Homo sapiens: one gene and its partner. The protein of the gene in region 1 interacts with the protein of each later gene in a biochemical or structural test. Each region holds a gene or a part of one and is shown on either strand. Other genes may lie near its edges. The genes, in order: S100G and SLC8A1.

The links.
Region 2: the proteins of S100G (region 1) and SLC8A1 interact in a biophysical measurement, tested with the Homo sapiens proteins (one large-scale study listed by IntAct).

The regions. Positions count from the first base shown.
Region 1 is NC_000023.11:16,648,667-16,652,959, forward strand, and holds the start of S100G (protein S100-G), read left to right. Parts: upstream 1-1,491; 5' UTR 1,492-1,537; intron 1,538-2,236; exon of another isoform or gene 2,237-2,332; 5' UTR 2,333-2,340; coding exon 2,341-2,475; intron 2,476-4,293.
Region 2 is NC_000002.12:40,116,571-40,120,391, reverse strand, and holds part of SLC8A1 (sodium/calcium exchanger 1 isoform A precursor), read left to right. Parts: intron 1-3,821. UniProt on the Homo sapiens protein: Mediates the exchange of one Ca(2+) ion against three to four Na(+) ions across the cell membrane, and thereby contributes to the regulation of cytoplasmic Ca(2+) levels and Ca(2+)-dependent cellular processes.

The DNA of each region.
Region 1 (4,293 bases):
TCCAACCAGTGAGTTAATACATATTCTATATTGGTGCATAGCAAAGTCAAAGAATCCATAATAAAAACAAGAAGAATATATACAAGACAGCAAAGACACATGGAATGATAAATGCTCAAGACTGGCGGGAAGCTTTTAAGGAATTCTATTAGATTTCCCATTTGTTCTCCAATGTAAATAAGGCCCTAGAATTTTAGAGCTGAGAAACATCAGGGAGAAATACAGTCCCAATAGTCCAGTCCTCAGTTTGTAGGTGATATAAGGCAGAGTCAGGGAAAATTCTATAAGTGTGGAAGTGTACAAGTGTTTCAAAGCTGTAAAGTGCTCTTAAAATCCACCTGGAACCCCTTCCTGTGAGTTACAATCAGCATTAGATCAATGTCCCTTGGAAATGTCCTACTTATTTCATGGAACTCTTTCCAGTAGAAATCAATCTCCTTGGCAATTTTAAATCATGGCAGTTACAAAAAGTTTGAAGTATTTCCAACTGAACAAGAGTAAGTCGAGTGTTCTCACAAGTTTTTCGAATGATCACGAAATATATTTGGTAAGGAAAAGGATAATGAGAAATAAAAAGCAGACACAGGACCAACAAATAATGAAAGAGCTGAAAAAATGACCATGTTACTCAATATTGATTTGCCAAATAAAACCACAAATTACTGAGTATCTTCTTTCCACTTCTTAAACCTGCTTCTGAAGCAATACTTCCATTCATTCATTCATGTATTCAAATATTTAAGCTGCTAATATGTAAAGACATCAGAAGGACTTCAATGGCCATACCGTAATTTTTTAAACTATGTAATATTGTCCTTCTATGACAGCATTTTTTCTTTTTTACAGACAGGATCTCACTCTGTCACCCAGGCTGGAGTGCAGTGGCACAATCATGGCTCACTGTTGCCTCAACCTCCCAGGCTTAAGGAATCCTCCCACCTCAGCCTCTACAGTAGCTGGGACTACAGGCATGTACCATCACACCTGGCTGATTTTTTAAATTTTTCAGTAGAAATGTCTTGCTGTGTTGACCAGGCTGGTATCAAACTCCTCACCTCAAGCAATCCTCCTGCCTCGGCCTCCCAAAGTGCTGGGATTACAGGCATGAGCTACCGCACAGGGCAGCATTTATTTTTTCTGGATATGAAGAAAGTTATTTTTTAAAGCCTAAATATGCAACTAAATTGAAAAGAATCCTCTATATCTAAGCTTTATGAAATGTGAACTGTGAGCAAATATAATTCTACATTGGAGGGAAAATATAATCTCAGGGGGAAAAAAATCCAAGCTTACGACTCTGAACCATGAAGCAACTGTCGAGATGGACCTTTACTGGATCTTGCCCTTAATTATGGGGTTCATGCAGTCTTAAGCCTGAGTTTCAAAAACCATTAATAATTACCCTTAAATGGCCAACAAAAGGAAATTTTCATAATCAGGGTGGCGTGCCCGTAAAGACTATAAAAGTGTCATGATTCTGCTCAGCTCTTCAAACTCCTCTTTGATTCTTCTAGCTGTTTCACTATTGGGCAACCAGGTTAGTGTGATTTTGGTACTACCTAGAGCTCCTTCTGTTTGCATTAATACTCTGCTTCCTTTTAGAATGGTGTGAAAGATAATGGTCTGGAGAGAAGGTGAGTTTATGCCATCTGGAGATATTCCCTGTAACTTAGAAGCTAGAAGCTGTGGTCAAGTATTCTTCAAGACCACAGCCTGCAGAGTGCAGATCAGGTACATAAAAAGTGTAGAATGTCATTAATTACTAATAAAAATGTTTGGCTCCAGGGACCATCTCCTAACAGATGTACTCTAAGAACAGACATTTAACATACTATCTAAGATGTCTTTTTTTTTTTTTTTTTTTTTTTGCAGCGGAGGCTCGCTCTGTCACCCAGGCTGGAGTGCAGTGGCATCGCACTCACTGCAACCTCCGCCTCCCGGGTTCAAGCGATTCTCCTGCCTCGGTCTTCCAAGTAGATGGGACTATAGGCACGCACCACCACGCCTGGCTAATTTTTGTATAGAGACAGGGTCTCACCATGTTGGCCAGGCTTCCATGGTCTCGAACTCCTGACTTCAAGTGATCCACCCTCCTTGGCCTCCCAAAGTGCTGGGATTACAGGCATGAGCTACCGTGCCTGGCCTAAGATGCTTATTTTTTAAACATGTTAGTAGTTACTGGTGCCATTCCGACCCCGACATTCTCTTTTCCTTATTCTTCCCCATTTATGCCAAGGAAATGGCCCAATGGCACTAAAATCCTGCAGACAACCCTCAGCACAAAACTGTACTTCAGCTTTTTGGTAAGTTTATTTTCTTCCCAATTTATAAGACACCAGAATGAGTACTAAAAAGTCTCCTGAGGAACTGAAGAGGATTTTTGAAAAATATGCAGCCAAAGAAGGTGATCCAGACCAGTTGTCAAAGGATGAACTGAAGCTATTGATTCAGGCTGAATTCCCCAGTTTACTCAAAGTAAGTGGCCATCCGCAGAGCCCACTTAATGGGACTGATGGTGGGAGGGGAGGGAGGGAGGGGAGAGGACTCCGGTAGAGCCTTATAGGGACCGTCGCTTGAGGGAGGACACATGCAGGTGGGGTTTCTTCCCCTTAAGTCAGGCCACATTTCAGAAGGCAAGCTCTCAGAAAACAAGGGCCAAGCCTTCTATCCCTCCTGCAGCCTCAGCACAGGACTCTGCAGGACTAGCCATAATAAATGGAAGCAATGCCAAGTTATGCCTGGAAGACCCACAAGTCACCAAGCAAACCCAATAAGGCCTTCAGCATGGATTCAGTACTTCTGTGCCAGGCTTTAGGAAAACAAAGAGGACTGCAAAATAGTGTTAGCTGGCCTTGGACAGGCTTCATTTGTGTATGTAAAATCCCTCAACAAGACCAACACTTACTTAGCAGTCTGTTAGGAAAACCCACTGACAAATTGCCTTGTCAGCACTCATTTATATTTCAAAAGCATTTACATTTGTGTTCATCACTTAAATTTGTGTTAATGAGGCAACCGTGCATTTCTAAACAACTTTCAAGAAAGGACTAAATTTCCTGGGCCATAAAGTTTCACATCAAAATCACCCCAGAGTTGTCAAAATCAAAATGCATTCAAGGCAACAGAGTACAGAGAAGAGCTGATCGTCCTCACTCCAATATACAGTACTGTCTTTCCTTTTGCTAAAGAAAAAGCTGAGTCAGGACACTTGCCAAGGATGGTAAGGCAACTTACTCCAGGAGGGCCATGGCGACCCATACAGGGACCACTGAAACGTGTTCTTGCCATGGGGAGAGAGATTGGGCTCAACTCCAGAAAGGATAAGTGGGGGTTTATGACCATAGAGCAGGATGGGGGGGGCCAGTGGATGGAAAATTACCAAGGAAATATCCAGGATAAGGAGCTTCTGGCTAAATTGCCTTGATAGGATTCTAGCTGAAGGCAGGCCAGGTGATCAAATATTAAGGGTAGTCAGATACAAGGACAGAGAGGGAAGCCCAAGGTCAGGCCTAGTCGAGCAGAGGACTCAAAGGAGAGAGTCATTGTCATTTTGCAATTAAAAACCATCTTCACAACAGAAGTGACTATGGAATTGTTTTGTATGACTCAGTCACTATTTAGCTCTAACTTCAGGAAAGAACATTTCTTCAAATATTTTAACCAGCTCTCCAGATTTTAACCAGAAATGTCCCTTCTGCCAATATGACAATTGGAAAGACTTCTGTTTTTAATACTAAAAAAGAAAAAAGCTGAATTCAATGACCCCAGAATCTGATATTTTCTCATTTTCTCATAGTTGAAATATAGAAGAACTTGTAAAAACACTTAAAGTCACTAGCAGAAAAAGGGACTTTTTAATTAAACAGCAAAACAAGTTAGTGAAAAAATTTAAAATTTTAAAAGACCCTTTATTTTTTCTAAAAGGAAGAAAAATAATCATCTAACAGGAAAGCCTAGGCCATGTACTCAAACAAGTTGTTTCAAAAGGTAACACGGGTAACTTTTTCTATATTTTATGTCTTTCCTACAAAAAGTACGTAAGACATAATCTGGAACGAGGTAGGAAGACTAATGGTAAGTTCTGAAAGTCTACTTAACATGTACCTGATTATATTCCCATAAGGTTTCCATTACTAAGGTTTTCCACCATACTCTGTTTACATATATCATCACCATGCATGGTTTAGAATCTAGTAAAGGCTTCAGGAAAACAGTGTTTCATATTCATAAATCAAAGGCTGAATAAGTAACTTACAGTTTGGTCTTGTAATTAAAGCAAAGTGCTAAGTGTTT
Region 2 (3,821 bases), on another chromosome or scaffold:
CCATGAAGATCTGTACACCTTGGCTGCCTCTTTCATTGTCAGTGAACGAATACGTCAAGGTCTGGTTGCTGGGAGAAGCAAGCAGACCTTCATAGCCAGGATGGACTCCAATTAAAACCACTGCCAGTGTCAGTTCCTGGGCATGAAGCATTGGAGAGCTGAACAGCTGGTCCCCAAAGAACACTAAGAGCCAAGAATAAGATGAACCATCTGGGGCGAAACCCTTGCTCCAGATAATACATTATCCCTGCATCCATCCTGCAAGACTGTGAGAATGACCTTTTTTTGCAGAAGAGATGTTTAAGGCTTAGCCTATAAGTAGCAATAAAGTTTGAGAAATTTAGGTAAAGAATAATTGCTGAAGGAAAGGGAGAGTATTGGCCTATTTTTGCATGTTGACCAGATGACTTGGGCAAGGTAATATACCATGAACTTGAGGCAGGTCTGCAAAGAACAATTACGTCCTGACTTTGTGATGTGTAGTTTAATTCCAGCCATGCTGTCTCCTCAACAGTCTTCCTTCTTATTGATTTATAGTCATATGTATCAAGGAGCCAGGACTAAAAGTCTAAAACTGTATGACTGATCTAAAATTAATTAGAATTCAAGGTGGGAGTTAATAGCAAAAACTATTAAAAACCTAGCCAGGGACATAGATGAAGGAAAAAATACATGTGTTATTATCAACATATTTTGTGTCAATCGCATTGGAAATCTGATCCATATATAAAAGTTTTTATCTAATGGGCCAACCTCTGAATATTATTATATCCCCTTCAAACCCAAGGCAGTAGTTATTTCTTGGATTTTATTTTAGGATATGGCATTTGCCTGGTTTAACCATAGGCAGGTTACAGGCTTAGTGTTCAAAGTAGGGCTTGGCAGCACCTAACATATGGTATGTGATGTATTGCCCTATGTGCTGAGCAGCAAAGCGGCAATAAAAGGTAATTTGGGGAGAATCCATCGCACTTCATTTGGAAAACAGAGTTCTCTCTGTTGGAGCTAAGGTTAGTGGTTTGGATTTGCGTGTGTTCCTGCAATTTTTTTTTTTTTTACATTGCTTTTGAATTGAAAATAAAAACAGACAAAAGGCCTGATGTCTAACCCAAGTAAATAAAACCTATGAGACACAAAGTAGCCAAAAACATGTTTTACTTATGTGACAAGCTAGTCACTTTGGCTATTAACTCTTAGGAAATTCAAAGAAAGACATTTGAAAATAGGAACCTATTATTATTACAAGTAAGAATCCTTATGCAACATTCACATTAATAGGCTACTGATACATGGCTTGAGGGAGAGGAAATCACTGCATACCCAGGTGTGCCCTCCATGTCAGCCTAAAGGACTGGTTTGGGTGCTTTGAGTCCCCAGACCCAGGAGTCTTTGATTTTAAACTTCCTTTCCTTCTGGTGCGGCAGCAAAGGTGCCATCTAGAAAGCCCAGAGTTTCTGAGTACACATGGGATACCCAGGAAGTCCAGTGTGCAATGTATCAGGTGCCAGGGGAGGTAAGCAGGTGTGTTCTATGGAACAGCACCAGGTCACCTGTCCCTGTAGCATACAGAGGGAATTACCACCCCCGCAACTGCCCCACCTAACGTGGCCATCTGTTCACCACCAGCCAGTGCTACCAGCCATTTCAGCTTAGAATAACATCTCAGGTGTTTCTCAGCTGTACCTGAGCTGGAAGCTGCTTTCTCCTGCCTCAGACTTTTGTTCCTTTACTTTCCATGTTCCACTGCCTGACCTTAAAAAAAAAAAAAAAAAAAAAAAAAAAAACTTCCTTTTTTTTCTTTTTGAGGCTGCTGCCCTGTTTCTATTAACTTTTAATAATGAAGTACAAGAAACCATTAAGATTTGTCTCGCTTTGCTTTTACTCACCAGTCTCTGTGATAGTTGATTGGGCTGTGTGAATGTGTGATCATGAATGCACAAAGCAGCACAAATCCAGGAGTCTGGATTCACAAACTGCCCATACCTTCTTCAATCTTTGTTCTCCTGATACAGTAAAGAGCATTTGGTAAGAACCTGCTTCAAAGTTTCTGAGTGAAAGGAACAGGGCCACCTGAAATGAACTAAGAGGAAAGACAAACTTCAGGCTTCCTGGAAGGGGCAATGTGGTGTGGACTGAGACTGGGCTCTGAAATCAGACTTTGGTTTAAAAATTCACATTTGCTAAGACCCTATCCAAGAGGCATAATATCACAACGTCACAGTTTCTCATATCATGAAAGAGGAGTAATGACATCTAGCCCATAATGCTTGTGAGAGGGGTGAATGAGAATACACACGTTGCCTGTGTAGCATAGTGCCTAGCATGGAATAAGCAGTGTTTGTCTACTTCTTTAATTATGAAATAATAATCAGATCTGCTTTTCATCACAGGCAGAGGGCAGAATTGATGATAGGCCTTCAGAATTGACCAACTCCCTTTCAGGAAGAATGTCATACTGCAGATGCAGTAGCCTTTTAGTAGCCTAAAAAGCCTTCTTATCCATTGTAAAGCAGGAGAATCCATGGGCTGATCTATATTTACATGCTGTACATATCTTCCCCACTGGAAGTTTACGGAGGAAGGATGGTGGCAATAGCATAACAACAGAGGGGAGAGACTAGTACAGGTATCGTACAACTACATACATGCTCAGAGCATGCCCAGGACCTCAGGAGGACCAGAGCAGATAACACAACACCTTGCAGTCATTTAATGCTTGCTGTTACTGGCTTTGGAAATAAGTTCAATTTGACAGTTATTAATATCTGCTATAATCCTACTGTGCAAGGTAGCTGAAAGGACTTTATTTGATTTTTTTTTTTTTTTTGAGATGGAGTCTCACTCTGTTGCCCAGGCTGGAGTGCAGTGGCATGGTCACGGGTCATTGCAACCTCCACCTCCCGGGTTCAAGCAATTCTCATGCTTCAGCCTCCCAAGTAGCTGGGATTACAGGTGTGTACCACCACGCCTGGCTTTTTTTTTTTTTTTTTTTTTTTTTTGTATTTTTAGTATATAGACAGGGTTTCACCATGTTGGCCAAACTGGTCTCGAACTCCTAACCTCAAGTGATCCGCCCATCTCGGCCTCCCAAAGTACTGGGATTATAGGCATGAGCTACCGTGCCCAGCCAGGACTTTGATGTAAGTAGGCATAATGTGGACAAGAAATTTAGTATCTTGCAAGTTCTGTTCACATGCTTAATACAGGAAGCTATTTCAGATCCTACCTCAACTTTTAAACCGATCTAGCCTGCTCGGTTTATATTGTGTTTCCAAAACAACAAAAACAGCCTCTCCTACTACTTTGTGCCAAAAAGCATCAAAAGCATTTTATTTACATGTAGTATTTCACCTTACCAACAGCACTCTGAAGTGAGCAGTACCATCCCCATTTAACAGATTAGGAAATTGAGGCCCAGAGAAGTTAAGTAATCTTCCAGAGTCACACAGTCAGCTGCGAAGGCAGGATTTGAAGTCCCCCAGCTCAAATGTGCTCTAAACCCCTGTGTTCTACCCATCAAGAAGTTTAAGTCACTGTTGTTCAACCTTCTGTAGTGGACCAAGATTTTCCTATCATCACAAAAAGATACAGTCAGGATTATGAGTAAATAAAGGGCTTTGAAAATGATCATTGGTGCCCACAGCACAGTGAAAGGTAGAAAAGCACCATGAGAAAGCATTCGTTTTGAAGACATGAGGCAGGAGCTGTAGCCCTAACATGTTTTTTTCCTAGTTGTGATATTGCATCCACTACTTGTCATCTCTAAGCCTCGTTCCCTCACCTCATAACCATCATTCTCAGTAAACTATCGCAAGAACAAA